Homo sapiens: one gene and its partners. The protein of the gene in region 4 purifies or fractionates together with the protein of the main gene of each other region. This does not show direct contact. Each region holds a gene or a part of one and is shown on either strand. Other genes may lie near its edges. The genes, in order: VPS8, EIF2B3, HEATR3 and FZD10.

Region 1 (7,250 bases), on a different chromosome or scaffold from region 4:
TCACTGAGCTCCTTTTACCAATGTAATGTGCTGGCAAAGTGGACAGAACACAAGCCAAAGAGTCTATTATTAGGTCTGCTGTTGTGGCCACTTTTCTTAGAAATGACCAGGAAATAATCACTTCTCCCCACCCCTGACCCCCCAAAAAATAAAATAAATAAATCAAGTCTGAATCTGGACTTTATGAGTTCCTATCTGTGACCTTGGTTAATTTGTTTACCTTTTCTGAACCTCTCTATTTCTATATCATTAAAATGGAATATTGTGGACATTTGTGTTGTTTGCTCAGAACAGCGTCTCTTGTTCTGGGAAGGGCTCCTTCAAACCATGTGTTCTCGTAGAGGCTAATGGTCAAAAATCCCTTAGTATAAGGGATTATGTGATAGCCAGAGTCTTTCACCAGGATTCATTAAAATGGAACTGATGAGGAAGAGATATTTCCATTGTTCTCTATACAATGAATAATGTGGCTGAGCAGATCCCACATTCCCCACCCAGCTCGCTTCTGCAGAAAAGAAATCATTCACTTAACACACACCTAACTAAACACTAAGCATCTGTCACTGGAGATGAACCTCTATTGATAGAACTTAGGTTCTAGGTACAGATTCTCTAGCAAGCATGAAACCTATCTAAAAAAACGAAGTAGAGGCCAGGCACAGTGCCTCACACCTGTAATCCTAGCACTTTGGGAGGCTGAGGCGGGTGGATTTCCTGAGCTCAGGAGTTCAAGACCAGCCTGGGCAGCAACACGGTGAAACCTCGTCTCTACTAAAATACAAAAAAAAAATTAGCCAAGCGTGGTGGCGTGTGCCTGTAGTCCCAGCTACTCAGGAGGCTGAGGCAGGAGAATTGCTTGAACCCGGGAGGCGGAGGATGCAATGAGCCAAGTTCGCGCCACTGCACTCCAGCCTGGGCAACAGAGCAAGACTCCGTCTCTAAAAAAAAAAAAAAGTAGAGAAGAAAGTTCTGACATTATTCAAGCCTCAGATTCTAGTCTTCTATGAAGTTAGCTCTGCCCATAGCCTTCTGGCAGTCTGGCTACATAAACCAACATATACTCTCCCAACTTCCCCCTTTCTTTTAGCACTTAAAATTGAGAGTCCTGGCTCTTATAAATGCAACTACCTACTCTGCAGGGCTCCTGTGAGGAACAAATGATATGATTACAAAGCATTGAGAATAATGTCTGGACATAATTTTCAACAGATATTAGCTATTACATTTAAAACCTCAAAATTTTCAAAGTTTTCTAAAGTTAAAGATTCTAAAACAAAATCCAGTATTTTTGTAAAGGTCTAGCCAGTGCTAAGCATATCAGAACGATATCCTGGATATCACAGCAGTTCTTCATGAGCTGAATGATAGGGGTTTTGTCTAAGACTAGTACAGCCCCCACCAAAGCAACAGAGACACTTAATAAAAACTTTAATTATAACAGAAGTGTCTTATTGTTACTAACTCATTCTAAAATCATGTTTTAGGTTTTTTTTAACATCAACATTAGTCTACACTTTATTAGTGAAGCCAACTATGTCCCCTTCCCAAGTTCCTCTTTTGTCACTTACCAGCAATTATTCCTTTCTTCATTTTAGTCAGTAAGTTTTTCCAACTCAAAGAGACCTGGTGAATCAAAAGGTCACCATGCTCAAATTTTTTTTAAAAGGAGAGTTCACATGAGCAGCTTCTGTGAATTTTTCAGAAAGTACCTAAGCTGGGAATCTACCAGTGGTAGGCAGTATGAGGGTATCCAACAATGCCAGTCCTAATCCCCAGAAACCATGAATATGTTACTTGATATGGCAAAAGGGATTTTGCAGGTTAAATTAAGACCTTGACAGGAAGGTTATTCCGGATGATTTGGGTGGGTCCAATGTAATCACAAAGGTCCTTGAAAGGGGAAGAGAGAGGCAGAAGAGAACGCCAGAGAAAGAGATGTGACACCATGTCACAGGCGTTGAACACGGAGAACAGGGCTCAGGAGCCAAGGATGCAGGCAGCCTCTAGAAGCTGCGAAAGACAAGGAAACAGATGGTCTCCGAGAGCCTCCAGAAGGACTGAAGTCGTCTTGATCTCTTAATTTTAGTGAGACTGGGGTGAGACTTGTGAAGTACTGAACTGTAAAATAAATCTGCATTGTTTTATACTACTAACTTTACGGTAATTTACGGCAACAATAGGAAATGAATAGACAGTGGATCCTTGAACAACACAGGTTTGAACTTCAAGGGTCCACTTACAAGTGGGTTTTCTTCCGCCTCTTCCACCCAAGACAGTGAGACCAACCCCTCCTCCTCCTCCTCAGCCTACTCAACGTTCAGACAAGGATGAAGGCCTTTATAATGATCCACTTACACGTAATGAAAAGCAAGTATATTTCCTCTTCCTTAGAATCTTAATATCTTTTCTTTAGCTTACTTTATTGTAACTAAATACAAATAACACACAAAATATGTGTTAAACAACTGTTAATGTTATCAGTAAGGCTTCTGCTCAACAGTAGGTAGTAGTAGTAAAGTTTTTGGGGAGTCACAAGTTGTACTCAGATTTTCCACTGGTTGAGGGGGTAGTGCCCTTAACCCCCGCATTGTTCAAGGGTCAACTGTACTAATAAATATAAGTTAATTTGTTTCTGGTCACATATCCAACATTCTGAAATATTAACCCTTACCTTGTGGGTTGGTGTTGCCCATGTGTTTATTAAGCAGGCCCTTCATTCCAATATATGCACCAATGATGGAATGCTTACTATATGATGCTTAATATTTCACTCTTGATACTGATCCTGCTTCAGCTATCCCTTAAATGTTATCCCAGTAAAAGGTTGATAATGAACCACTCATAAATTCCTGCTGGGATGCAATTCTACAACTAGTTCTTCACCCAACCATCATGTGAGCTAGTGTTTTTATAGTTCTTAAGAGGATACCATACCAGAGAGTACTTGCACATAACAAAACAGGCTTCATGATTTCTTAGTCTCTCTTAGAATGAAATCAGATTAATCTGATAGGAAATACATGTCATGGAATCATAATTACCCAGTATGCTGTCTCTTCTGAGTGCTGATAAATGAGTATTTTAATAGTTCAGACATAAGATTATCTGACATCTTGATAATTCTGTTATTTCCTCTTAATTGTTATTCCCAACCAATTAATAGATTCAAGGACCATTAAAAAAAGATATGCGCCATATAAACAGCAATGACTTAATTATGACACTGGCTAACTGAATAAGAACTCTAGAATGTGTGACCTATATTACGCCAAGTTAAACTTGCACCAGTTTTTTTTTAAGAGATGGGATCTTGCTATGTCGCCCAGGTTAGCCTTAAACTCCTGGCCTCAAGCGATCCTCCTACTTCACGTCTCCCAAGTAGCTGCAACTACCAGCCTGTGCCACCATGCCTGGCTTTTCACCAGTTTTCACCTTGGGAAACATTTATTCCTAACTGTTCTCAAGCTCCATGATCCTGTTTAATCCTGACATTCTTTTCCTCCTAAAAGTGTCATATGAGATACTTTTTCACATTACAATGAAATAGAATCAAGTTTTTATTTACTATATAATGCTAGAAAACAATCACAAAATCATGATATAGTACAACATTACATGCAAATTTTATTTTTGGCCTTCCCAATCCAAGCATTTCTCTTCATTCCTTTGTTTTGTTTTGTGGTTTGCTTTGTAAAGGGAAAAATAAAATGCAATGGTGGGTTAACTTCTATTAGTTTTCTATTACCTTCTGGCAAATGGACTTTTTTTTTTTTTTTTTTGAGACAGGTTCCCCCTCTGTCACCCAGGCTGGAGTGCAGTGGCATAAGCTCGGCTCATTACAACCTCTGCCTCCCAGGTCAAGCAATCCTCCCACTTCAGCCTCCCAAGTAGCTGGGTCTACAGGCGCACACCACCATGCCCAGCTAATTTTTTGAATTTTTCATAGAGATGATGTTGGCCAGGCTGGTCTCAAACTCCTGGGCTCAAGCCATCTGACCGCCTCAGCCTCCCAAAGTGCTGGGATTACAGGTGTAAGCCACCACGCCCAGCACAAGTGGACTTATTTTTAACAGATTCCCAATGCCTCCAGGATAAAATCCCAAATTCTAAGCCTGTGACTCCAGATATCACACGAGCTGATCCTTCTGCCTCCTTCCCTTACAATTGAATTTATTATTTTTGCACTAAGAGTCCTTCATGAATAGCTTCCACTTTCCCTTCATGTCTGCTCAAGCTGATTCACCTTCCCTTTCCTTTCCTTTTTCTCTACATTTATCTAACTTCCTTTCTTCCTTCTGGGCACCGTTCAAACTGGATCTGCCTATGACCTCTTCCTTCCCTAACCATCCTCTGAATTCAGAAAACATGTCTTCTTTTAAAACAGTGGCTTGGCTCTTTCCTCATGCTGATTCATTAGTTAATTTACCATGTGACTCTTTTCTCCCCAGCTATATAATAAAAATGGGGCCATGCTCCTTTGAATATTCCACATCACTGGGCTTACTGGCTTGCACAGCTAGGTAGACATTCGAAAAATGTTTGATTAACATAGGAACTAAGAGACAGGAATAACATCTGTGTTGCAAATTAAATCTATCAGTGTTATTACTTGTAATTGTTAAGCTCCAGAGGATATTATTTGACTCACAGCATATAGGAATCTATACCATAAGAAGCCAAGTTATAATTGAATACTACTTATATGTAGTCAAGCTTGTCAACCACTGCAGGTCATATTTATCAACTATCGGCTAAAACTTTGCTTCCTTAGGAAGGCCTTTTTTTGCCCTGCTCAACTAGGCTGTTTCCTGTTAGTATGCACCCATAACATCGTTCTCCTCTTTTACTACACTTACCACATTGTAATGATTTCCTCATTGTCTAAACCACCATTCCTTGCCCCCAGTTGGAATGCAGGTTCCATGAGAGAGCAAAGACCAGATCTGCCTTGTTCACCATTCTATTCCCCGTGCCGATATGACACAGCAGCTGATCAACCCACCCATCTACCCATCCACCCATTCCTCCCTCCCTCCCTCCCTCCCTAGGTAAATACCCAAGCAAGACTGCATCACTGGCTTCCAGAATCTCAAATAGCAGTTCTGGTCACGTAATACAAAGTATGGTTAGTTACACTACTCCAAAACGCCTCCATCTGTGCAAGTTCCATTCTTTGCATCTAGGAGAGATATTTTTAAATCACTTAGCTCATTTATAACATGATGCAAATCCCACAATCTCAGATGTTTTATGTTCTTTTACGTTAATTCAGCTTAGAGGCCAAGATGAATACAGTGGAAATGTACCATACTTCCATTCAATTTGCAGGATTTCATCTATTATCTTCAGCAACGGGAAGGAGAGAAAGAAATGATTCATATAGATGATTCTATGAATCATGATTCATGATTCTGCATACCTCCACTCAATAACTTCTTGCTTCACAGTGGGCACAGAATAGGAGATGGTCAGCTGCTGTTCTATGTCTCAGTTCTCACATGCCTCACACCCAAGCAGTTCACGTCACCTGTGCTCAAAATAACAAACGCCATGCAGTTCCAACATGGAAAAACAAGATCTGGCCGTATGGGGCTTCCTGAGAGACCCACCGCTTGTCAGTCTCTGATATGACTCCCTCTTGGGGTACTTTGAGGGTACTCAATTTTCACCTTATTCATTTAGATACAGACCCTATTTAGAGAAACATTACTATATACTGGGATGGGCTGCTTTACTTGACCCTGGAATTTCTTTCCAAGAAGGCACATTTAGGTAATTGTAGCTCACAGTGCCAGAACTGCCACGACGAAAAAGCCCAACCCTCTGTTTCTCTTTCTGTTGTTGGTGAATGTCTAAATGAGGAGAGTGATCATAAGTACATACAGATTAAAAAATGTTAAAAAGAAAAGTAAGGGGAAGGAACAGTGCCTAAGACCTTCCTGTATACAGTGAGTGCTAAGTTACTGCTATGAATTGTCAGACAATCAGCTCCAGCCTAGAAAAGAAAAATCTAATCCCCTATCACAATATACAAAACAATAATATGAACGAAGTCTACAAATATCTAGATAATGTAGAAATTCTAACTTTATTGATCAGTTTTATATCAATATGTGTGTGAGGTAATAAGTGAAATAAATAACAGAGAAAAATGATCACTTCCAGCTTCTATAATACTGTCTCCACTATCATGAGAATGTCTCTTCTCAGACCCACTTCAGCTCCAAAGAACTCCTCCTAAAAAGCACAAGGGCCTTGTGTACGCTGAAATATATTCCCTTTTCTTCTTCACATAACTGACTGATGCAGGTAAATTCTTGTAAGTTAAATGCGCAAAAGACAGGATTCCACTTAGGTAAAGGCTGAGTAGATGATGGCCTTCTTTATTAATTTGCAATTAACTGTCATCTCAATTTCTCTTGGTTAGGTGTCAAGAAGGATATAGAGTCATGAGAGATTTATTCTTTTTTTTTTTTTTTTTTTAAGAGCAGGAAGTAACTGGAAGCGTCTTGCTGAACTGCAACGGAAAAAACAAAGGTTAAAACACCCCAGCACCACTGCCACCTTTCCTGGAGGGCAACTGCTTCTCCTCCATTCCAACCATGTGATTTTGGTGGTGCTGCCAATCAAGTACCCTATCTGCCTAGCTAGCGGAGCAGAAGAGTAGGCACATCACATTCTTGGGTCCTATGTGGCCAATCAAGGTACTTCTGGAATTTCTCTTTATTCTAGGGTGCTTAATCTTGGATGGCATAACACAGGAGTCATCTGCAGTCACATCTTTTATGCATTTATATACAGTCATGTGCCCCAAAAAGACGTTTTGGGTCAACGACAGACCACATATACAACCATGGTCCCCTAACATTACACATAATGGAGCAGAAAAATGCCTGTAGCCCAGTGATGTCACAGCTGTTGTAATGAATGCATTACTCATCTGTCTGTGGTGATGCTGATGTAAACAGACCTACCGCACTGCCAGTAGTATAAAAGCTAAGCACATACAATTATGTGCAGTACATAATACTTGATAATAAACTATGTGCCAGTTTATGTATTTGCTATCCTATACTTTTTATCTTTAGAGTGTACTCATCCACTTATTTAAAAATTTAAAAATTAGCTGTAAAACAGTTTCAGGCAGGTCCTTCAGGAGGTATTCCAGAAGGCACTGTTATCATAAGAGATGACAGTTCCCTATGTGTTACTGCCTCTAAAGACATTCCACCGGGACCTTCCTGACTCTG
Region 2 (7,250 bases), on a different chromosome or scaffold from region 4:
TTGAGGGAACTACATTGGGGTGGCATTCAAGGATAACAGAGGTGAGATAATGAAAAGATTAGTTATTGACATTGCTCCTGGTAGAACCCTGTGAAAATATAATTGCAGGTGTAGACCAGGGTGGCAGTGGAGCGCAGAATAATATAAAAGAAATTGTTGAAAATTGGGATTGAGGCCGGGCACAGTGGCTCACGCCTGTAATCCCAGCACTTTGGGAGGCTGAGACGGGTGGATCGCCTGAGGTCAGGAGTTCGAGACCAGGCTGGCCAACATGGTGAAACCCTGTCTCTACTAAAAATACAAAAATTAGCCAAGCATGGTGGCATGCACCTGTAATCCCAGCTTCTCAGGAGGCTGAGGCAGGAGAATTGCTTGAACCTGATAGGTGGAGGTTGCAGTAAGCTGAGATTGTGCCACTGCACTCCAGCCTGGGCAACAGAGTGAGACTCTGTCTCAAAAAAAAGAAAAAGAAAATTGGGATTGACTCCTGAAGAAAACCTGGCTCAGGAATCTGTAGGACCCACACCAGATAAAACCTCAGGTGAGCCTCAACCTGTATTGGTTACAGATCCAAGGGAGTCCCAAGCCAGAGAGCTTATGAGAAATCATAGCTAGTCCCACATTTACCCATGACTAGCATCTTTCACGCTGGTCTGGAAAGATGTTCATGGATAACCTGAGTGGGAAGACTTGTCCAGATCACAGGTGCACCGCTGTGTCCACATCATGAAAGAGGGACCCTGCTCTCGAGTGAGCATGCTGGGAAAAGTATCCTTTGAAGTGCCAACAGGGACTATGCAGCAGACGGGCCTGAAGGGCCTTGGGTGGAGTGTGGAAGAAGAGAACCTAGGGCTGGGGGCTTGGAATTAGCCTTCACATTCCAGTGTAGCCGTGCTGACAAGGCCTCCGTCAGCTAGTGTGGCTGCCACGCACAGTGCTCTGACCAGCATTCTGTCTATGCTGGAGAATCATAGACAGGCGCACTACCTGTGCCTTCCTAATAGACTGGTAGCCAAAGCCCCCCATACCTCTAACCTTTCCAGGTTTCTCACACTGGAGAGGGAATAGTGTGAACTTCCCCTTCATGTTTTCTTTTGGCTGGGGGATAGATGCCTTCTCAGGGTCTGTCCTTGATTTCGAATTTGTCTAAAATGGATCTCATCCTCACCTCATGCGTGGTCACAGTGGTCCAGGAGGTGACCAGGAACCCAGGATGCTTATGATCAGGATGCGGGGTGTTCCTTGACCTGATCAGGCCTCCTTTCCCAAGAGGTGGTATGTGGGTATCTCAAAGACTGGTCTCAGTGCCTCCCAGCCAAGGGACATGGCATTACTTTCAAGGAGGAGCATTCAAAGCTAAGAGACTGACAATAAGGCCATCTAGAAGCTGCTGCATAAATAATCTTGGTCCTAGGGGGAATGCAGCAGCCTCCTGCTCCCCCTCACTCAGACAGGAAGCTATGGCTGAGAACTCCCTGTATCTCTGATTGAGCACTGGGTTCTACCTAAGGTGTTTTTTTTTTTTTTTTTTTTTTTTTTTTTTATTGATCATTCTTGGGTGTTTCTCGCAGAGGGGGATTTGGCAGGGTCATAGGACAATAGTGGAGGGAATGTCAGCAGATAAACAAGTGAACAAAGGTCTCTGGTTTTCCTAGGCAGAGGACCCTGTGGCCTTCCGCAGCGTTTGTGTCCCTGGGTACTTAAGATCAGGGAGTGGTGATGACTCTTAACGAGCATGCTGCCTTCAAGCATCTGTTTAACAAAGCACATCTTGCACCGCCCTTAATCCATTTAACCCTGAGTGGACACAGCACATGTTTCAGAGAGCACAGGGTTGGGGGTAAGGTCGCAGATCAACAGGATCCCAAGGCAGAAGAATTTTTCTTAGTACAGAACAAAATGAAAAGTCTCCCATGTCTACTTCTCTCTACACAGACACAGCAACCATCCGATTTCTCAATCTTTTCCCCACCTTTCCCGCCTTTCTATTCCACAAAACCGCCATTGTCATCATGGCCCGTTCTCAATGAGCTGTTGGGTACACCTCCCAGAGGGGGTCGTGGCCGGGCAGAGGGGCTCCTCACTTCCCAGTAGGGGCGGCCAGGCAGAAGCGCCCCTCACCTCCCGGATGGGGCGGCTGGCCGGGTGGGGGGCTGACCCCCACCTCCCTCCCGGACGGGGTGGCTGCCGGGCGGAGACGCTCCTCACTTCCCAGACGGGGTGGCTGCCGGACGGAGGGGCTCCTCACTTCTCAGACGGGGCGGCTGCCAGGCAGAGGGTCTCCTCACTTCTCAGACGGGGCGGCCGGGCAGAGACGCTCCTCACCTCCCAGACAGGGTCGCGGCCAGGCAGAGGCGCTCCTCACATCCCAGACGGGGCGGCGGGGCAGAGGCGCTCCCCACATCCCAGACTATGGGCGGCCGGGCAGAGACGCTCCTCACTTCCTAGATGGGATGGCAGCGGGGAAGAGGTGCTCCTCACCTCCTAGATGGGATGGCGGCCAGGCAGAGACGCTCCTCACTTCCCAGACGGTGTGGCGGCCGGGCAGAGGCTGCAATCTCAGCTCTTTGGGAGGCCAAGGCAGGCGGCTGGGAGGTGGTTGTAGCTAGCCGAGATCACGCCACTGCACTCCAGCCTGGGCACCATTGAGCACTGAGTGAACCAGACTCCGTCTGCAATCCCGGCACCTCGGGAGGCCGAGGCTGGCGGATCACTCGCGGTTAGGAGCTGGAGACCAGCCCGGCCAACACAGCGAAACCCGTCTCCACCAAAAAAATACGAAAACCAGTCAGGCGTGGCGGCGCGCGCCTGCAATTGCAGGCAGTCGGCAGGCTGAGGCAGGAGAATCAGGCAGGGAGGTTGCAGTGAGCCGAGATGGCAGCAGTACAGTCCAGCTTTGGCTCGGCATCAGAGGGAGACCGTGGAAAGAGAGGGAGAGGGAGACCGTGGGGAGGGGGAGTGGGAGAGGTAGAGGGAGAGGGAGAGGGAGAGCTACCTAAGGTGTTTTCTGATCTTTAGTGACCAAATCTCTGTCCTTAAGGTGCCCAAATTGCTGTCTGCTCTCTGTCCAGAAGAACCACCAGTCCATTCGTCAGCCCAGATTGTCAGCAAACACCTGGTAAGTGCTAGTGTGGCCAGGACGGGCATGAGATGTTCTTTGGGAGCATCGAGACTTGTTTTTGAGAAGCCGGATTGAGGCCTTTAAGTCCTGAACCTCATCAGCCCCAGGGAAATCACAGTGGGTTCTGAGAATAAAATCTCACTCAACAAGACTGCCTGGGCAAGTAATGACCTTGTAAGGAAGGGTCCATTATAGTGTTGGGACTCAGACACAGGAGCTCTCAATCTCAGCCTGAAAGACTCTAGTCATGGGTAAATGTGGGACTACCTATGATTCTCATAAGCTCTCTGGCTTGGGACTCCCTTGGATCTGTAACCAATCCAGGTAGAGGCTCACCTGAGGTTTTATCTGGTATGGGTCCTACAGATTCCTGAGCCAAGTTTTCTTCAGGAGTCAGTCCCAATTTTCTTTTTCTTTTTTTTTGAGACAGAGTCTCACTCTGTTGCCCAGGCTGGAGTGCAGTGGCACAATCTGTCCCCCTTCTAACTCTGATTTGAGCACACTCTTTAAGAGAGCACATCTGTATACACAAGTGCATGAGTGTGTATATGTGTCTGTTGTTTTATTTTGTTTTCTTGGCAAGAGAGGAGGGCCCATGCTTCAAATAGGTTTGAGTTGGTCTCAGAGGTGTTGTATGACCTTGTGGCCCTGAGAAATACTGATCATGGTCCCTCTTGCTGAAGTGTCTCTATGGAAAGATCCCATTAGATCCCAGCTTGAGGGATCTGGAGGGTGGTTTGCAGTTGGTTGAGATGGGTGGACAGAGTTTTATATTTTGCCTTTTACAGGTTGGAGTTGACAGCCTCATTGGGCCAGAGACACAGATTGGAGAGAAGTCATCCATTAAGCGCTCAGTCATTGGCTCATCCTGTCTCATAAAAGATAGAGTGACTATTACCAATTGCCTTCTCATGAACTCAGTCACTGTGGAGGAAGGGTATGTTTCCCCCTGTACCCACTTGAGGCAAAGATAATGGAAAAATGCCTTCAAAATTCTGAAGGAAGGTTAATTTTAACCTAAAATTGTATACCCAGGCAAAGTGCTAATCAAGAGGGCAATAGAATAAAAACATTTTCAGATATCAAAAGTCTCAAAAACTTTACTAGGAAATTTATTCCTCTAAAATGGAAAATAAACCAAACAGAGAAAGATCAGAAACAAGAGATTCAACTCAGAAAAAGGGCAAAAAGAATCCATGGGATAACAGTGAACAGAGATAAGAATGACAGCTCTAAATGGGGCATAAAGGGATTAGTTAATCCAAACTGGAACAAAACCAAAGAATCCAGGAAAGATTTATTCAGCAAGATGCAACTGATAAAATACCAGATACATACAAACATTTGAAAGTCGATTTAGGCAACTGGCTAAAAGTTTGAAGTTGAATCGGGGATAACATAGAAAAAACAACACTATTTAACAAAAACAAGACTGTTATTAACTCTGGGAAAATGAAGAAGTTGTACAAGTTGAATATCCCTAATCCAAAAACCCAAAATCAAATGCTCCAAAATCCGAAACTTTTGAGCACCAACTTGACACTCAAAGGAAATTCTCACTGGAACATTTGAGAGTTCAGATTTTTGGGTTAGGGATGCTGAAACGGTAAGTATAATGCAAATATTCAAAAAAATTTTAAAAAATCCAAAATCTAAAACACTTCTGGCCCGGCACAGTGGCTCATGCCTGTAATCCCAGCATTTTGGGAGGCTGAGGCAGGTGCATCACCTGAGGTCAGGAGTTCGAGATTAGCCTGGCCAACATGGTGTAACCCCATCTCTACTAAAAATACAAAAAAAAAAAAAATTAGCCAGGTGTGGTGGTGTGCACCTGTAGTCCCAGCTACTCAGGAGGCTGAGGCAGGAGAATGGCTTGAACCCAGGAGGCAGAGGTTGCAGTGAGCTGAGATCGCACCACTGCACTCCAGCCTGGGTGACAGAGCAAGACTCTGTCTCAAAAAAAAAAATAAATAAATAAAAAATAAAACACTTCTGGTCCCAAGTATTTCAGATAAGGGATACATAACCTGTATAAGAAATGAAAAGACCATAGTTTGCTATGGATCAGCTACAAAATAGAATTTACATAGTCATAATAAACCTGACTACTGGCCAAAGTTATGCTATAACTCTATTGAAAGGATGAAAGATGGAAAGGGAAATGGGGGTAAGGGAGAAAGGAGAGCTAAATTCTCATTTTTCACTGTAGAAAGCCAATTGATAATGCCTAAAGCTGAAAAATAAAGAACTAGTAATACAATTATGTTAATACCTAGAGGCATGGAAGTAATACCAAATTACTCAGCAGAAAGAATTAAAAGAGTTGCCTCTGGGAAGAGGGAAATGAGGAATAGGGGTTGCAGGGGACTGCTGATTTTCATAACAAAATCTTCAGAAGTATTTGCTTTAAACTACTAATATCAGTTGGCCAAAAATATCCAGAGTTTTGTGGTACGCTGCTACCAGTGGTATGCTGATAAATTGTTGACAACCAGCCCTCCAAAGGAAAAAATAAGCGACATAATTCGAAACATTTGCTAATTTCTGTGGTGTAAATTATTCCACTATAGCCAATGATATCACCTAACGCTGAGTTGAGAAGAGATGCTAATAATTGCCTCTCCCAAGCTAAAACAAGCCAGCGTCAGCACACCACTAATAGAGACCCCTCTCAAGCATTTCACTGATTTATCAGATACTAACAGACCCACTCTCTGATTAAGATTGTGCTAGGCAGTGAAAGAAACAAAACGACATAAGTCTTAATCTCTTCCCTCAAGGAATTTATACTATGTGCAGTAAGAAGTGATAGGTGCTATGGTAGAGATCTGTAAGGTCAGAAGGGAGGAAAGGGTCAGGAAAGGCTTAAGGAAATGACCCTTGAGCTGAATCTTGGAAAATGAGTAGAGCCACCTGAGCTGGAGAAAGGAGTGGTTTTGGGGGTAGTGTTTTTTTGTTTTTTTTCAAGACAGGGTTTCCCTCTGTTGCCCAGGCTGGAGTACAGTGGCATGATCATAGCTCACTACAACCTCAAACTCCTGAGCTCCAACAGTCCTCCTGCCTCAGCTTCTCAGGTAGCTAGGACTACAGGCGCACACCACCAGGCCCAGCTAATTTTTTTAAAAAATTTTATAGAGATGGGGATTTTACTGTGTTGCCCAGGCTGGTCTTGAACTCCTGGCCTCAAGCAGTCCTCCCACCTCAGCCTCCCAAAGTGCTGGGATTACAGGCATGAGCCACTGCACCTGGCCAGAGGTATTCTAGATACATAAAAAGTGAAGTGGCCAGCCACATTGGCTCATATCCATAGTCCCGGCACTTTGGAAGGTCGAGGTGGGCAGATTACTTGAGCCCAGGAGTTTGAGACCAGCCTGGGCAACATGACGAAACCACATCTCTACAAAAACTACAAAAATTAGCCTGGAGTGGTGGCATACATCAGTAGTCTCAGCTACTCAGAAGGCTGAGATGGGAGGACCGACTGAGTCTGGTATGTCAAGGCTGCAGTGAGCCAAGATTGTGCTACTACACTGCAGCCTGGGTAACAGAGTGAGAGCCTGCCTTAAAATACATACATATACAAGAATTAGTTGAGCATGGTGGTGTGCACCTGTAACCCCTGAGGTGGGAGGATCAACTGAGCCCAGGAAGTGGAGGTTGCAGCAAGCAATGATCATGCCACTGCACTCCAGCCTAGGTGACAGAGTGAGACCCTATCTCAAAAAAAAAAAAAAAAAAAAGATTGTGAAGTATGAAAGAGCATATCTTATTCCAGAAACATCTCCCTATTTTGATCTTAGCTCAAATGTCACCTCTTCAGAGGAACCTTCCCCAACTACCCTATTGGAAATAATCTGTCCCACTAACCACCATCACATCAACCTGTTTCATTTCCCTCATAACACCATCACTATTTAGTCTTATCTTTACTTGTCTCTCACAAGTAAAACATTAGTTTCAGAATGTAAGTGCCTTATCTCTCTTGTTCACTTTTATATCCTGAGGGCCTACAGGAACTCAATAAATATTTGTTATATGAAAGAATGACAAACAATTCACCATGACCAGAATATAAATCAGAGAGGGATGGATACAAGAGACAAGGCTATACATGCAGATGGACAAGGGC
Region 3 (7,763 bases), on a different chromosome or scaffold from region 4:
ATAATGAGAGCAGATTGGTGTTTCCAGGAAAAGGAATGAAATTTCCATAAGATGTTTAGATAGAAGACAAAGTCACCAACACCAAAGTACTAAAAAAAGTCTAAGTTTGCATCCCAAAAGCTACCATCAAGATACTGTAAAAACTGCATACCTCTTTTAGCAGCGCAACCAGAGGGGTCATGATATCCTTAGTCACCATGTCATCACAAACTTCAAAACCTCCACAAGCACTGAGATTTCTACACAAGAAGTTTAAAACATGTTTTACTTTCACATCACATGTCACAGAACACTTCTACCCTCTCACATTTCTATTTTTAGCCATATTTAAGGTTTCCCAGAGGAAATAGCTTATTGTTTCTGTCATACGCTGCAGAACCAATCCAGAGATTTCCATCTGTTCTGATCCATGTTCTACAAGATATAAACAGACGACGCTGTCATATAACTTAGTTCTGAGGTCTGAAACAGTATACAGGTGCATGGCTACAAGAAGGGGAGAGGGGAGACTTTTCTCATGTGAATAAATCACATCATGTATGAAGGGACCTTTTCTTGGAATCAAGACTACAAGGGCAGGGCTAGGTGCTGTGGCTCACACCTGTAATCCCAGCACTTTGAGAGGCCTAGGTGGGAGGATCAATTGAGCTCAGGAATTCAAGACCAGCCTAGGAACAGCGGGAGACCCCGTTTCTAAAAAAATAAAATAAAATAAAAAGCGAACTGCAAGGGCAGCAAGGTGGGGCTACTGAGAATGACACCCCCTAAAGCAGCCCTGGGTAAATTTTAATTGGAAAGACATGACTTCCGAGTACACAGCACTGTGCTAGTCCCTAAGGATATGGAGATAGTCAGAAGATGCCCTCACAATGTGCCAGGATCCCCCAGCCTCTGTATGCTGTGGGAGGAAGGGAAGGGCTTTCCACATGCTGTTTCCTCCCTAAAGGAAGAAGAGCGTCTATCCCCCCTCCATCAACTGGTGAATGCCCATTCATTCCTCCGAGCTCACCTCAAGCACCACTCACTCAGTCTTCTTCCCTGAACCCTTTGTTTGTACCCTCTTTTAGCACCCTTTGTCATTACCATTCATTGTAATCATACACTTATGTAACTGTTTGGTTAATGCTTGTCTCCCTCAATACACTTTAAGATTTCTTAAGGAGAGACATTGCCTTGCTCATTACCCCATGCCCACAGCTTAGCTCAGTGTCTGGCACACAGTTGGCACTTTATACATATTTGCTATATCAGTGAATGAAATATAAATAACAAACAGAGACAGAGCTGTAAGAACTACAAATACTAACCTCTACTCTTGCCCCCTCTGCAGTCCATTCTCTGCACAACCAGCAGAGTGGTCTTCACAAAATGTGTTGCAGCATGTCACTTCCCTGCTTAGAGTTAAGTCCTCAGCCCTACACCATCGTACAGCTCATCCCTCTCTCCAGCCTCACTTCCTGTAATTACCCACCCCTGCTCTTCTCAGCCACCTACCTACCCTCTCTGCTGTTTAACCACGTCAAGCTGCCTGCTGCTTCGCTTCTTTGCTGTTGCTGCTCCCTTTGTGGGGAATATTCTTCCCCCTATTTTCCCATGCCTCCTGGCTCTCTCACCCTGCACATCTCCTTTCACAAGTCATCTAAAGAGCACCTTTTTTTTTTTTTGAGACAGGGTCTTGTTCTATCACCCAGGCTGGAGTGCAGTGGTGTGATCATAGCTCACTGCAGCCTCGAACTCCTGGGCTCAAGCGATTCTCCTACCTCAGCCTCCTGAGTAGCTGGGATTACAGGCACCCACCACCATGCCCGACTAATTGTTTATAATTTTTCTACAGACGGGGTCTTGCTATGTTGCCCAGGTTGGCCTTGGACTCCTGGCCTCCAGTGATCCTCCTTCCTTGGCCTCCCAAAGCAATGGGATTACAGGTGTGTGCCACCGCGCCCGGCCCAAGAGCACCCAATTCAAACTTCCCACCCCCAACTCATCATCATCTCGTTTTCCCACAGCAATTCTCACTATTTAATATTATGTTTTACCTTTTTACTAGCTTCCTGTCTGTCTCCCCATCAACATGACTTGTGCCAAGACAGGGATCTTGGCTGTCAACAGATCTCGCTCAAAAGTCTTGGCTGCTCAAAGTCCCCTGCATCTAGAACGATTCCTGACACATGAACTGAAGAGTTCATCCAAGCAAGGGACCCTAAGGAGGGCTTTTGGAGAGTGTAAAACGTGCGCAAGGCGTGAGGGCAGGACGCCTGAGCAGGTGGACGCTGCAGGTGAAGCAGCCAGGTGGACAGATGAGATGCGGGGATACTGGGCTTCTCCGGAGCCTGGAGACTGGCTTCAAATCTCTGCAAACGGGAGACCGGGCCAGTGCCTGATGGCACACAGAAGGCGCTGGGTGACCGCTGCGACCGCCCGCAGCCCAGACGCGGGGGAGGCCAGCGGTGGGCACCGCCCCGCACCCTTCCTGGCTCACCTCAGCGCGCCGGCTGCAGTCTCCCTGACGGCCAGGCTGGGGTCTAGCAGCAGCGGCCCGAGGCGGCGCACGGCGTCTCGTCGCGCCAGGCCCGGGAGTGCCGGCCGCTGCTGCACCAGCCGGGCCAGCCCTGCGCAGGCGCACTCGCGGACCTCGGCGCTCGGGTGCTGGAGCTGCGGATGAGAGCGAAAAGGGTCAGAAGGCGCGCAATGCGCACGCGCGCGGGGCAACCTCGTCTCGCCTCCCGGCCCGACGGAGCCCTCGCCTCACCTTTTCCAGCAGCTCCGCCGCCGGCCCGTCGTCCTCCTCGCCTCCGGTCCCATTCGCCGCCGCAGCCGCCTCGGCCTGACAGTCGCCCGTAGGGGAGAACTGAGGTCGCTTGAAGCGCTTCGTCCGGCTCTTGCCCATGGTGACGTGCGCTGGGCGGACAGACCACCGAGAGAGGAGGGCAACAGCAGGCGGTGGAGGCTGCCGCGCCGTTAACAAGGTCCGTTGCTGCTGCTCAGCTGGGCCGGCTGACGGCTGCAGCACACATGGGCAAGCCGTGCGCAGGCGCACGGCGCGTCGTCTGCCGGGTCGGGGTTGGGGCGGGGCGGGGTGGGGGGAACTGGCGCACGGAGCGCGCAGGCGTGGAAGAGGGCATAGGCGGGGCCAGCTTCGGCAAAGGGGCGGAGCCTTGTGGGTTTACCGGGTAAGTAGGAGGTTGGACTAGAATAGTAACGCCGACCCGGGCGAGAGGATCACTTGAGGCCAGAAGTTCGAGACCATCTTGGGCAACATAGGAAAACACTCCACTCCCTGTCCTCCCCACCAAAAAAATTAAAAATTATCTGGGCATAGTGGCGTGTGTGTGTAGTCCCAGCTACTTGGGACGTTGAAGCCGGAGGATCACTTGACCCCAGGAGTTTGAGGCTGAGGTGAGCCGTGATCCTGCTACTGCACTCCATCCTGGGCGACAGAGCGAGACCCTGTCTCAATCAATCAATCAAGCAACCAATAAGTTAGTAACACCGGCTACAAATAATCAAATGTGATTAAGAATACCTAACTTGCAAGGTTATTGTAAGTTCTGTAAAGTTCATAAAGTTCTGTAAAGTGCCTAACACCAAGCCTGATATATAGCAGGTACTCAAAAAGCATTAACCACGATTTTATTTTGTGTCCCCAGCACCTCCCATAGCTCCTGTCGTAGACAGAGACTAGTTAATGTTTTGGAACGAATGTGTGTCTATATTTGATAAAACAGAATCGCTTAAGAACCTAATCTCCCTGCCTTAGTTTCCTCATCAGTGAAGTGGGGACATCGATAGTATATACCTCATGGAGTTGTTACGAAGACTAAATGTGTTCATATGTTTAAGGTGCTAAGAACAGAGACTGGCAGATACTAAGCACTATGTAAATGTTTGGAAACGTATTTAACAAAGAGATTCTTTTGCAGATATTTGTTGAGTACTAGGTACAGTGCTGGGCATTGGAATAAAGCAGTAATCAAGACAGTTTGGTTCCTGTCCTCTCTCCCTGTCCTTATGGAATTTACAGTCCAGGGAGAGATCTGTTGAATATATAATTATATGAATAACTTTGGTTATAATTGTGGTAAATACTAAGCAGAGGGAAAAGTACAGGAGAATCTTAGGTGGTCTTTATAATTAGACATGTAACGAGTGAGTACTCAATATATGCATAGCTTTGGGTCAATTTTCTTTTTTTCTTTTTGTTTTTGAAACAGAGTCTCACTCTGCTGTCCAGGCTGGAGTGCAATGGTGCGATCTCGGCTTATTGTAACCTCTGCCTTGGAGTTCAAGCAGTCCTCCTGCCTTAGCCTCCTAAGTAGCTGAGATTACAGGTATGTGCCACCATGCCCAGCTATTTTTTTTTTATTATTATTTTTAGGAGAGACGGGGTTTTACCACGTTGGTCAGGCTGGTCTCGAACTCTTGATCTCAAATGATCTGCCTGCCTCAGCCTCCCAAAGTGCTAGTATTACAGGTATGAGCCACCACGCCCAGGCTCAGGTCAACATTCTACTGGAGAAAATTTCCATTCCATGGTAACCCTACTGTCAAAGAGTTGACTGTCCAGTAAGGGAAATTAATTACTATGGCAAATTTTAGAGAGTAACAGAAGTGTAGCTCATGTTGCATTTGGGCCTATCAAAGATCAATCTTGGGCTGGGCACTGTGGCTCACACCTGTAATCCCACCACTTTGGGAAGCCAAGGTGAGCAGATCACCTGAGGTCTGGAGTTCAAGACCAGCCTGGCCAACATAGCGAAACCCCATCTCTACTAAAAATACAAAAATTAGCCAGGCATGGTGGCATGTGCCTGTAGTCCCAGCTACTTGGAGGCTGAGCCAGGAGAATCTCTTGAACCTGGGAGGCAAAGGTTGCAGTGAGCCGAGATCACGCCACTGCACTCCAGCTTGGGTGACAGAGCGAGACTCCGTCTCAAAAAAAAAAAAAAAAAAAAAATCAACCTTGGAGCCACTAAATATATGTTGGTGGGTTTTACTTCCTGTATATTTTATCAGGCCATCGATCTGCCTGCCACCCACCTAGTCCAGGCAACCGTCTTTTTGTTGTTGTTTTTTTTGAGATGGAGTCTCTTTCTCGTTGCTCAGGCTGGAGTGCAATGGCATGATCTCGGCTCACTGAAACCTCTGCCTCTTGGGTTCAAGTGATTTTCCTGCCTCAGCCTCCTGAGTAGCTGGGATTACAGGTGCATGCCACCACGCCCAGCTAAATTGTATTTTTAGTAGAGATGGGGTTTCACCATGTTGGCCAGGCTAGTCTCGAACTCCTAACCTCAGGTGATCCACCAGTCTCGGCTTCCCAAAGTGCTGGGATTACAGGCGTTATCTACCACGCCTGGCCTAGGCTACTGTCTTTTATCTTGAGCACGTGGCTCTCTGGTCTCTCCATTTCCACCCTGCCTGTCCCCCATCCATTGAGCAGCTAGAGTGATCTCAAAATATCCCTCCACCTTTCTCCTTATATTGTATTCACTTCCTCGCTTAAAACTTTTCAGTGGCTGCCGGGCATGGTGACTCACGCCTGTAATCCCAGCACTTTGGGAGGCTGAGGCGGGTAGATCACTGAGGTCATGAGTTCAAGACCGGCCTGGCCAACATGGTGAAACCATGTATGTACTAAAAATACAAAAATTAGCTGGGTGTGGTGGCACGTACCTGTAATCCCAGCTACTCAGGAGGCTGAGGCAGGAGAATCACTTGAACCCAGGAGGCAGAGGTTGCAGTGAGCCCAGATCACACCACTGGTCTCCAGCCTGGGTGACAAAGCAAGACTCCGTCTCAGAAGAAAAAACCAAAGAAAACAAAAAACTTTTCAGTGGCTTCCCTTTCTCTTTGGATAAAGATCAAAATCTTACCAGGGCTGCAGGGTTTCACCCCGGCCCCCAGCCTCACCTCTTCATTTTGCTCTTTTAGCCAACATCTATGGGGCCTCAGGGGTTTGCACAAACCCCAGCCCCTACCCTATGAACTAGTGAACACAGTCTTCATAGGCAGAGACAGGGACTTCGTAGTGAGAGACAGGTCTCCCTTGAGACAGCATGTACCTCGTTTCTTTGCTTCAAAGCACATATCAAAATTACAGTCGTAATTTTCAATTTCTTTGTGAACGGTTATACAATTGCCTTTCTCCCCAGCTGAACACTAGCACCTATAAAGACAAGACAGTGCCCATTTTCACACATCACAGTATCCCCAACACTAGCCCAGAGCCTGGCACAAGATAGTCATGCAATTTCTTGAATGAATGGAGTGACCACGTAGGAAAGAATAGGGCATTAAATCTAGATGGAATAAGATGACGAGAATTTAGATGAGATAGAAACAGATTCCTCCTGTTTCTCTCACTGTGAGGATGAGCAAGAAAAAAGTGGTTCAAAACTCAGGCTGGGCGCGGGGGCTCATGCCTGTAATCCCAGCACTTTGGGAGGCTGAGGCGGGCAGATCACCTGAGGTCAGGAGTTCCAGACCAGCCTGGCCAGCATGGTGAAACCCCGTCTCTACAAAAAATACAAAAATTAGCCAAGCATGGTGGTACATGCCTGTAGTCCCAGCTACTCAGGAGGCTGAGGCAAGAGAACCACTTGAACCTGGGAGGTGGAGGTTGCAGTGAGCTGAGATCATGCCACTGCACTGCAACCTGGGCGACAGAACGAGACTCCGTCTCAAAAACAAACAAACAAAAAAAACCTTAACTAGATGAGCACAGAGGACTTTTAGGGCAGTGAAAATACTTTAGATGATATAATGGTGGATATATGTCATTGTACATTTTTCCAAACGTCTAGAATGTATAACACCTAGAGCAAACCCTAATGTAAACTACGGATTTGGGGTGATAATGGCATGTCAGTGTAGGTTCATGGTTGTAACAAATGCATCATGGTGGAAGATGTTATCATGGGAGAGGCTGTGCATATGTGGGGGCTGGGAGTATGTGGGAAATCTCTGTACTTTCCTCTTTTTGCCGTGAACCTGAAACTGCTTTAAAAAATAAAGTCTTCGGCCAGGTTCACTGGCTCAAACCTGTAATCCCAGCACTTTGGGAGGCCATGGCGGCTGGATCACTTGAGCCCAGGATTTCAAGACCAGCGTGGGCAACATAATGCGACCCCATCTCTACAAAAAATTAAAAAATTAGCTGGGTGCGGTGGTGTGTGCCTGTAGTCCCAGCTACTTGGGAGGCTGAGGTGGGAGAATCACTTGAGCATGGGAGGTGGAGGCTTCAGTGAGCCGAGATCACACCACTGCGCTCCAGCCTGGGTGACAGAGTGAGACCCTGTCTCAAAAAATAAAACTAAATTCTTAAAAAATATAAATACGTATAAATACCATAGCTAGAGCAGAACTTTGTGGTCTGTTATCATTAGTTACTCTTTCCAGTGATAAATTACCATTGCTGCTAAAATGAGTAATTAGCTTTATTTAATGAGCTTAAGAGCCCTTCTGGGAGCCACCCTCAGTCAATTGTCAGTCTTGGAAGGAGCCCAGTGATCTTTAACCAGTCTAATCTTCCTTCACCAGTCATTTTTTAAAATGCAGTGAAGTAGTGATTATCTAACCATCCCTTTTTCCTGCAAATTATCTTTGTCAAGAGGGAATTTTTGAATTAGACTGCTTAGAAGCCTCTTCCCTTGAGACAAGTTGGAAATAAGCTTGTCATCAATTATTGGTCTGACAAATTAAAAAAAAAAAAAGGAGTTAGGCTGGGTGCAGTGGCTCACCTGTATTCTCAGAACTTTGGGAGGCCA
Region 4 (8,203 bases):
TAAAATAGTGGAGCATGAAAAATATCATATATTACAAATATACACACGCAGAAACCACTCTTTCCTGGCACTGTGAAGAGAATACACTAGACAAAGTGTCTCTGCCAACCTAGTGCTTCCTGATCTGTTTGTGGAAATCATTTGTTTAACAATAGAAAGAGTCAATAAGCCCTTTGGGTAACTTTTGAATGATCCTTCTCCCTCTTCCCCCCTCCTTTCCACAAATCAGTCCAAACGTCTATAACATTGGCTTGGTTTCCATTAAAAAGCCACAAAATGTAGCACTGAAGGGTTTCTGAGGGCTGGGCCTCTTAGTTCTTTTGTTAGGAGATTTCTTTTGTTGTCTTTATATATAGCAAAATACTTGTTTCTCTTTTTATTTTCAAGGAAAGAGAAAAAAATGTATTGCACATCGTTTGAGTTCACAAATGTGAGGTTTGATGGAGGTTTCTGTCTTGCAGAGAGACTATTGGTGAAGGCCGGAGTCTATTTTAAGCAACTCCAAATCCACTGGGGTGTGAGGCGGGCCCCGGGTCCTGTCTTTCCTCTGCAGGGATGCCGCCCAGCACTGTGGCCTTCCTGGGGGTGGGCCCTGGGGATGGCTCATTTGTTAACCCAGGGGAGGCTCTTGAATTTGCAAAGCAGTTATCTGTCCTCTTATTTGTAAATGGGTAGCAAAGCCAACTCAAATACACAGATGTATATTTAGGGAGGGCTCTAAACAAAAGTTTTCTTCTGAGGGCTGAATCAACTACTTTACCACAAATTAGTTACACAAGAGGCTACTTCACTGGAGGAGCTTCCCTTCGCTGGAAAACCAAAACAAAACAAAACCCTTTAAGTACATTTTTCCTTTCAGTGTATCACAGCATCCTGAATTTCAGGGTAAACACTTTTTTATGTATTTCTCTTTTGCTTTTATAAAAAAAAAAAAAGAAGAAGAAGAAAGAAAAACACAACCAAGAAAAGCACCACATCTTAGCTCCGGGCGCCCCTGTGCCCTTCCCTCCAGCCCTGTTCACACGCAGGTGGGCGACTGGGCAGGGATCTCATATTTCCCGTGGTGAGTTTTCTGGGGATGCTGGGCTTTTTTGTAAATCCCACCGCTGGTGATCACGCTGGCCGGTTTTCTCCGGCTCTTCTTCTTTAACCTACGGCTGCACACCTGCTGCCAGGACTGCAGAGTCTTGGAGGTCCAAATCCACATCCCGCTGGTGATCCCCACCACCAGCAGCATAAAGATCTTCACCATGAAGATCTCCACGGCGGGGATGGAGGCGGCCATCAGGCAGTCCAGCGTTTTAGTCTGGTTGTTCATTTTGCACTTGTGCTGCGCCGCCAGGATCTTCCAGTAATCCATGTTGAGGCGTTCGTAAAAGTAGCAGGCGATCACACAGGTGGCCGGCACGGTGTACAGCACAGAGAAGAGCCCGATACGCACCATGAGCTTCTCCAGCTTGTCCGTGTTCTCGCCGCCCGTCTTCATCACCCTCCGGATGTGGAACAGGGCCACGAAGCCCGAGAGGATGAAGGACGTGCCGATGACCAGGTAGCAGGCCAGGGGAATGAGCACGAAGCCGGTGAGCGCGTTGACGTCCATGCTGCCCACGTAGCAGACCCCGGTGAGCTCGTCCCCCGCCACCCTGCGCATGACCAGGATCAGGATGGTCTTCACCGCCGGGATGGCCCAGGCTGCCAGGTGGAAGTAGCTGCTGTTGGCTTCGATGGCCTCGTGGCCCCACTTCTTGCCGGCGGCCAGGAACCAGGTGAGCGTGAGGACCACCCACCACAGCGAGCTGGCCATGCCGAAGTAGTAGAGGACCAGGAAGACCAGCGTGCAGCCGGTGCTCTCCAGTCCCTCCTGGATGACATAGAGCTGGCCGCTGTCCCGGTCGCAGGCGATGCTCTCGGCGCCGGCGAAGAGGCGGATGAGGTAGCCCACGGAGTAGACGCAGTAGCACATGGAGAGGAAGATGATGGGGCGCTCGGGGTAGCGGAAGCGGGCCGGGTCGATGAGGAAGGTGAGCACGGTGAAGGCGCTGGAGAAGAAGCACAGCACCGCCCAGATGGCCAGCCAGACCACTGCGAAGCGCTTGTCCTCGCGGCTCCAGTACACGTCCACGCCGGGCGTGCAGAGCGGCGCGCACGACGCGCTCTTCTCCACGTGGTGGAACTTGCCCGGGTTGTCGCAGCCGCCGCGCCCGGGGCCCCCGTCCTTCAGCGGGTGCTCCTGCGCGCTGTGGGGCCGCTGCGGCCGGAACAGCGGCGGGAACAGGCCCGAGCCCCGGGTGGGCTCGTCCGAGCCGTTGTTGGGCGCCTCCATGCACAGGTAGTTGGGGTCGTTCTTGTTGGGGAGTTTCCGGCAGTCCAGGGAGTCGGGCCACTTGAAGTTGAACTGCTCCATAATCGGGGAGCACTTGAGCCGGGCCTGCTCGCACATGACCCGGCAGGCGGGGATGGGGGTAGAGACCTGCTCGGTGCACATCGGCGCGTACAGCGAGCACAGGAAGAAGCGGAGGTGGCCGTGGCAGCCGTACTCCACCAGCGGCGCGAACTCGTGCAACTGGATGGCTGCCTCGCGCTGGTTCTCGTGGCCCATCAGGTTGGGCATACGAGTCATGTTGTAGCCGATGTCCTTGCACATCGGGATCTCGATGGGCTGGCATTTGCCGTCGCCCGGGCGCTCCATGTCCATGGAGCTGATGGCGGCGCACGAGCCCATCACCTGCAGGACCAGCCACAGGCGGGGGCCCGGGCGCTGCATGCTGGCGTTGGACGTGTCCTCGCGGGGAGCTCCGCGCCCCTCAGCGCCGCCGCTCCCGGGCACGGGCTGCTGCTGGCCCCGGCTCTCCACCCCTGCTCGGGCCCCCGCCCATGCCCGCCCGGCCTGGCCCGAGCGCTGCGCACAGCGCCCCCGGCTCGGCTCTCCGCGCCCGGCGTCCGCCGAGTTGGGGGCCGCGGCGGAGAGCAGCAAAGTTTGCAAACAATACCGGGAAGCGAGGGAAGCCCCCGGAGCTCCCGGCGCAGCGGCCCGGCGCGAGCTCCAACTCACGGCCGCGGCAAACTTCGGCCTCTTCTTGGAGCGCCCAGGTGGCGCGTCTGGAGCGGGCTGGCGGCGCGGGCACACCGAGGCCGGCCCAGCTCGCGGCGCCCCCACAGCCCGGGCGGCTCCTCCCTCCCTGCGCCGGCCTCGGCCGGGACCAGCCGGCAGCTGTTTCGAGGTTTGCGTCCCGGGATGAGAAGACTCGCAAAAAGGCAAAGGGGGGCAGAAAAGCCGAGCGCTGACAGGCCCCGCCCCCGGGCCGCGCGCCCCGCCCCGCCGCTGCTTTGCATGAGAAAGCGCAGCGGCCCGGGGCAGCCTCCTCCCCGCCGCCCCGCCGCGGGCTCCCGGGCCCCGCGGGGGCCGATCCCCCCCGGCCTGCAGCCCAGCCTGCGGGGGGCGCAGCGCCTAGTCCCGCCCGCGTCGCCCGCCAGCCCCGGGACAGCCCGCCTGGCGCGCGGGGCTCTGCGCGCTGCGACCCTCCCCGGCAGTCCCGCCCGCCTCTCCTCGCCCTCTCTCTGCCTGGCCTCCAACTTTGCCTCTCGCTATCCTCTCCGCCGGCGCCCCCTTTCCCGGCGGTCCCCGGGATGGTCCCCGGCACCCCGAGGACGCCGAGGTTACGGGAAGTTCGGGGACTGGCGGGAGAAGGGGTTTGGGGGTGGTCCGCGGCGAGGGGCGCGGGGTGCATCTTCTCTTCCTTTTATGGTGAGTCCCGGGCGGAGGGCGCTTTCAAAGGGAGGTGGGATTTGCGTTTTATAGCCTGGGCCATAAAGTAGGCCCTTGCTTGTAAACCTGCCCGCATCTTCCTGAGGCTGGGGAGGTGCTACCAGCCCCGGGCTCCGGGCTCCGAGGAGGGATTTTCTTTGAAATTTCAAAGAGACGAGCTAAGGGGAGGGGGAGGGGCTCGAGAATCCGGATTTTAGGGCCGCTCATCCGAGGTCTCCTCTAAGAAGGCGGGAAGGGGGAGGGGCGGGAAGCGTCCCGGGACTTTGAACACCGCCTCCCACCCCGCGGGAAGTGCGGGCTTGGTTTGTACCGCGGTGACCCCCGCCCCCTCCGAAGCCGCAGAGCCGGGGCCTCGCGCCAGCAGGGCTGGAGATGCCTTCTTGGCGGCTGAGTTTATTTATTATAGGAAGTCATTCGCTCGTGGGGTATTTATGTGATTTGGCGAGTGATGTGCCCGGCCAGCGCCCTCCTTGGCTGCAGCCCCGCAGGAGGACCCGGAGTAGGGTGGGATGGAGTGGGTCGTGGGAGGAGCGCGTCAGCGCCTGCCCGGGGACCCCCAGCTCCCGCGAGGACACGGAGGCGCGCACGCCGCTCGGTTTTCCTGGAAAGTGGAGAAGGAGCGTCCTGGGCAGGTCCTCTGAGCTCATCCCCCCTCGGATTGGGGCGGGTCTGTGACGGGGTCACTTAGGACACGACGTCCCCCCGCCATTCCCTTCCCCCGCCCAGGGCGTTCGCGGTGGGCGCCCACCGCCAAGCCCCACTGTTCCCAAGGATGCGCCAGGTGCTTCCCGTAGCGTCCTGGGTTGACCCTTAAAAAAACAGCACCCCTAGGAGGTGGCCGGCCCTCTCCTCCCAGGGTCTCTCCGGGTCACGATCTTCCAAAGTTCGGAAACTCGCAGGATCGCGTGTGCAATCTCCCGCTACCTCCCGGGGGGCCGGGGAGAGGTCAGAGGAGCGAGTCCCGCGTCCACCGGCCTCGCTTGCCCCCTGCCCGTTTGAGGATAGTTCCAGGGAGCAGGGTGGAGTGTGCGGACATCTTTGGAGGCAGTGCTGGGGCTTCCCGCGTTGGCGGCGCTCCACCCGGCGTGGGGGGCGGCTGCACGGGCCCCCGCGGTGGGGACGCTGCGCACGGGGCAAGGTCTCCCTAGGAAGCGCCCGGGAAGGAGATGGGGCCCGCCAGGAACCCCCCTCACTGACCAGCTTTCTGCACGCCGTGCAGGAGGGGGCCACTTCCTCGGAGAGTATTGGCTTTTAATTAAAACAAGCCCTACAATTTTTACATCGGTAAGAAACTTGGGGAAATCTCACCTTTCCACTCATTCATTCATCCGTTCAACAGACATTTGAGCGCCCAGAATCCCAGAATTAATAGGCAGGTTCAGGCACCCACCCCTGGGTCGCTGTCCCTGGGTGTCCTGGGTCTCACTAGGAGGTGCTGGAGGAAGTCGGGGTGAGGGAGAAAGTGAAAAAGAAGGTAGAAACTCCGGGCAGTTAGAACACCACCTTCAACTGTGTTATTTCCCAAGTGAAAAGTTGCATGATTTTATTTTTGAAAGACTGCCATTTTTATTATAGTGTTTTTTTTTTTGTTGTTGTTGTTTTTTGTCTAGTGAGTAATTTTTCAGGACCTTTAAATTAAAATTAATTCAGCGGAAATCACTTGGCTTTTCTAGAATTTTCCTGGCAAAGGTCCTTCCTGGGCCCTATTTTCCTTCTTTTCCTTTTTGTGTCTCTCCCTCAGCAACTATTAGAAATATTTAGTGCAAGAGTGAGAGCCAAACGCCGGGAGCTGGGTGTGAGCTATTTGAGAAAGTGCCTCCTAATTGATCTTTTCTGTGCTGTTTTAATTCAGCCACGTTCAGGCCCATTATTTTAGCTATAACCACTTCAGATTGCCTTTTTCTCTCGTTTTTTATAAAAATGTCTGCAGAAGTGCTTCGCCCTGTCCAGCTGAGATGGAAACCAACAAATAGACTTTATTATAGAGAAATGAGGGTTCTGAGAAATCAGCAACTGGAAGATAAGTCTGTAACTAATAAATGAAAAGGCTCTTTTGATGGCCCCAGCTGAAAAGATATTTTATTTTATTTTTTTTCCTGTGTGTGGGATTTGAGATGTGTGAGTCTAAGGAGCAGCCGGGGTCCCCCGCTGCTCAGCCCTGGCTGGCAACCGACCCCCCTCTGGCAAATGTTATGGAGAATTGGGAGGAATTTTATGGCTGTCTTTCCCTCAGCTCTTTTTTCTTTTGTCTTCTTTGAAGAATGACTTTAGACATTTTATTTACATATTTAACCATGGATGAAAGACGGAAAAGAAAGCTTTGGAGCCGTCGTGGGAATAGTGATATGTTTAAATTAATGGAAATCTTATTAGGCTTCTAAAATTTTGAGCAAAGATTTTTAATGAAACTTTATAATTAAACATGATTTCACATAACGTGCAGAGACAAGGAATATGTTTTTACCCCCAACCACCTAAAAATGTCTGTCTATCGGAAAGCTATCAGTAAACATTATCCGCCTTCAGGTTCTTGCAAACGTTCACCAGGGAAAGTATGAGGTTTTTGAGAGAGAATATTTCAGGAGTCAGGCAGTGTTTTGAACAAGAACTAAATATTTTTTGGAGGTGGAGGGGAATTGAAAGAGAGGCCCAGTTTCATTCCATTTAAACTCACAAAGTCAAAAGTATAAAAGTACTTTGACACGGATATTGCTAAAAATCAAAGTTGTATCTTTTCTTATTATGTAATAGTCAATGGAAATTATAAGCACTGTGCGAGGTTTTCTGAAATGGGATTAGAGAAAACCCAAATAATCTCTTTAAGATAAAAAAGTACTGAGTCTTTCAGCAACAGAAAGAAATTAAACCATAAGCTTAGCATGTTACAAGCTAATTGCAAGAGTAAACTGGTGGCATAGGAAGAAAGCTCATAAACAGAAGTAAAATCGTGCTGGTGAATGTTGAGATAAAAAGTGGTTCAGGCTGTCGCAACGCCTTTCAGTAGCTGCTGCTTGAATCACCTCTCTTGGTACATTCAAGTGTGAGGATCCACGTAAGTGATTCTTGTGTTTCTTCTCTTGTCTTCTCGTGTCGTCAATGTTTGTATTTAGTCCGGGACATTTCCAATTCTACCTTCAAGTATGAGAATGAAAACTGATCTATTTACCAATAATTGCTTCACATGCAGGGAAGTCTGATGTGAATAGACCTTGTTTTCTCTGACCTCATCTAGTATCAAGTTTCTGCAGAAACTTATCAGATATAAAACATGCACAAAAAATTATGTTTTCTGATCAAGTAGGCATGCTCCCCGTGGCGTGCCCCCATCTTTTTCTCCAGGGAAAATACCTTTAGTGATCTGAAGTGATACTTAGCAAAGAAAACACAGTTTGTACCACCAGAAAGGCCATGCAAGTCGCAGCGAATTCAACAGGCGCAAAAGTTTTAATTCTGCCTAAAAACACTGGCTGTGAGATGTGGAGGTTTGGGGGAAGGTGAGAAATGAACCCCGAAGCACCCCCATCCTAAAGTGGATGAGTGGGGTGTCCAGTGTGGCTCCAGCACAATTTAGGCAGCTATTTTAAGGCCACTTCCCTTGAAATGTGGTTTGAAATATTACCAAAGGTTCCACGGGGTGCACTAGTGTGAATTGCAAATCAGAGCATTGATTTAATCCTCTTTCAAGGCCGGGCTTTGGATCGCTGGCGTCGACTGGCTCCCCACTGCTCCTGGCTCAGGAGGGACCATTCAAGGGGGCAGCTTCCCGCCTCTATTCCCACACTCCAAAAAACAACACCGCAGACAGACACCCTCCAACTAAATTAGATTAAACTCCTTCTCTTCCACAGCGTATTAGCCTTTTTGCTGCCCAAGCCTCCTTACGCAGCCCCTCCTCATTTAAAGACACAGATTTCTTTTTCATCTCTGCAACTGCAACAACAACAAACACAATCATATATATATATATAGTGTGTGTATATATGTGTGTGTGTGTGTATATATATGTGTGTGTATATATGTGTGTGTATATATGTGTGTGTATATATGTGTGTGTATGTGTGTGTATATGTGTGTGTATATATATGTGTGTGTATATATGTGTGTATATATGTGTGTATATATGTGTGTGTATATATGTGTGTGTATATGTGTGTGTATATATGTGTGTGTGTATGTGTGTGTGTATATATGTGTGTGTATATATATGTGTGTGTGTATATATGTGTGTGTGTGTGTGTGTATATATATATATATATTTTTTTTTTAAAGAGATAAAGCCAGCCTTCTAAGTGCTCTTACATGGCAAGGACGTTATCTGTTTAAAATCCAGGAGGGCGTCGCCTACCTGTTCTGAAACTCAACAAATTAACCCTTAACCTGGGGCAAACCTAGAGCCTATTCACAGTGCTTCAACCTGCAATTCTGTACTGGACTGTT

Evidence for each region.
Region 1: the proteins of FZD10 (region 4) and VPS8 purify together in Homo sapiens (co-immunoprecipitation; 3 studies listed by BioGRID and IntAct, with this or other methods). This does not show direct contact.
Region 2: the proteins of FZD10 (region 4) and EIF2B3 purify together in Homo sapiens (co-immunoprecipitation; 3 studies listed by BioGRID and IntAct, with this or other methods). This does not show direct contact.
Region 3: the proteins of FZD10 (region 4) and HEATR3 purify together in Homo sapiens (co-immunoprecipitation; 3 studies listed by BioGRID and IntAct, with this or other methods). This does not show direct contact.

What each region holds. Positions count from the first base shown.
Region 1 is NC_000003.12:184,815,051-184,822,300, reverse strand, and holds part of VPS8 (vacuolar protein sorting-associated protein 8 homolog), read right to left. Parts: intron 6,518-7,250; exon of another isoform or gene 5,420-6,517; intron 5,180-5,419; exon of another isoform or gene 4,857-5,179; intron 1,594-4,856; exon of another isoform or gene 1,569-1,593; intron 1-1,568. UniProt on the Homo sapiens protein: Plays a role in vesicle-mediated protein trafficking of the endocytic membrane transport pathway.
Region 2 is NC_000001.11:44,871,486-44,878,735, reverse strand, and holds part of EIF2B3 (translation initiation factor eIF2B subunit gamma), read left to right. Parts: intron 1-3,040; coding exon 3,041-3,118; intron 3,119-3,909; coding exon 3,910-4,058; coding exon of another isoform or gene 4,059-4,095; exon of another isoform or gene 4,096-4,209; intron 4,210-7,250. UniProt on the Homo sapiens protein: Acts as a component of the translation initiation factor 2B (eIF2B) complex, which catalyzes the exchange of GDP for GTP on the eukaryotic initiation factor 2 (eIF2) complex gamma subunit.
Region 3 is NC_000016.10:50,061,256-50,069,018, reverse strand, and holds the start of HEATR3 (HEAT repeat-containing protein 3), read right to left. Parts: upstream 3,050-7,763; 5' UTR 2,888-3,049; coding exon 2,750-2,887; exon of another isoform or gene 2,695-2,749; intron 2,653-2,694; coding exon 2,480-2,652; intron 2,378-2,479; exon of another isoform or gene 2,037-2,377; intron 240-2,036; coding exon 152-239; intron 1-151. UniProt on the Homo sapiens protein: Plays a role in ribosome biogenesis and in nuclear import of the 60S ribosomal protein L5/large ribosomal subunit protein uL18 (RPL5). Required for proper erythrocyte maturation.
Region 4 is NC_000012.12:130,157,504-130,165,706, reverse strand, and holds the start of FZD10 (frizzled-10 precursor), read right to left. Parts: upstream 3,244-8,203; 5' UTR 2,765-3,243; coding exon 1,019-2,764; 3' UTR 1-1,018. UniProt on the Homo sapiens protein: Receptor for Wnt proteins. Functions in the canonical Wnt/beta-catenin signaling pathway.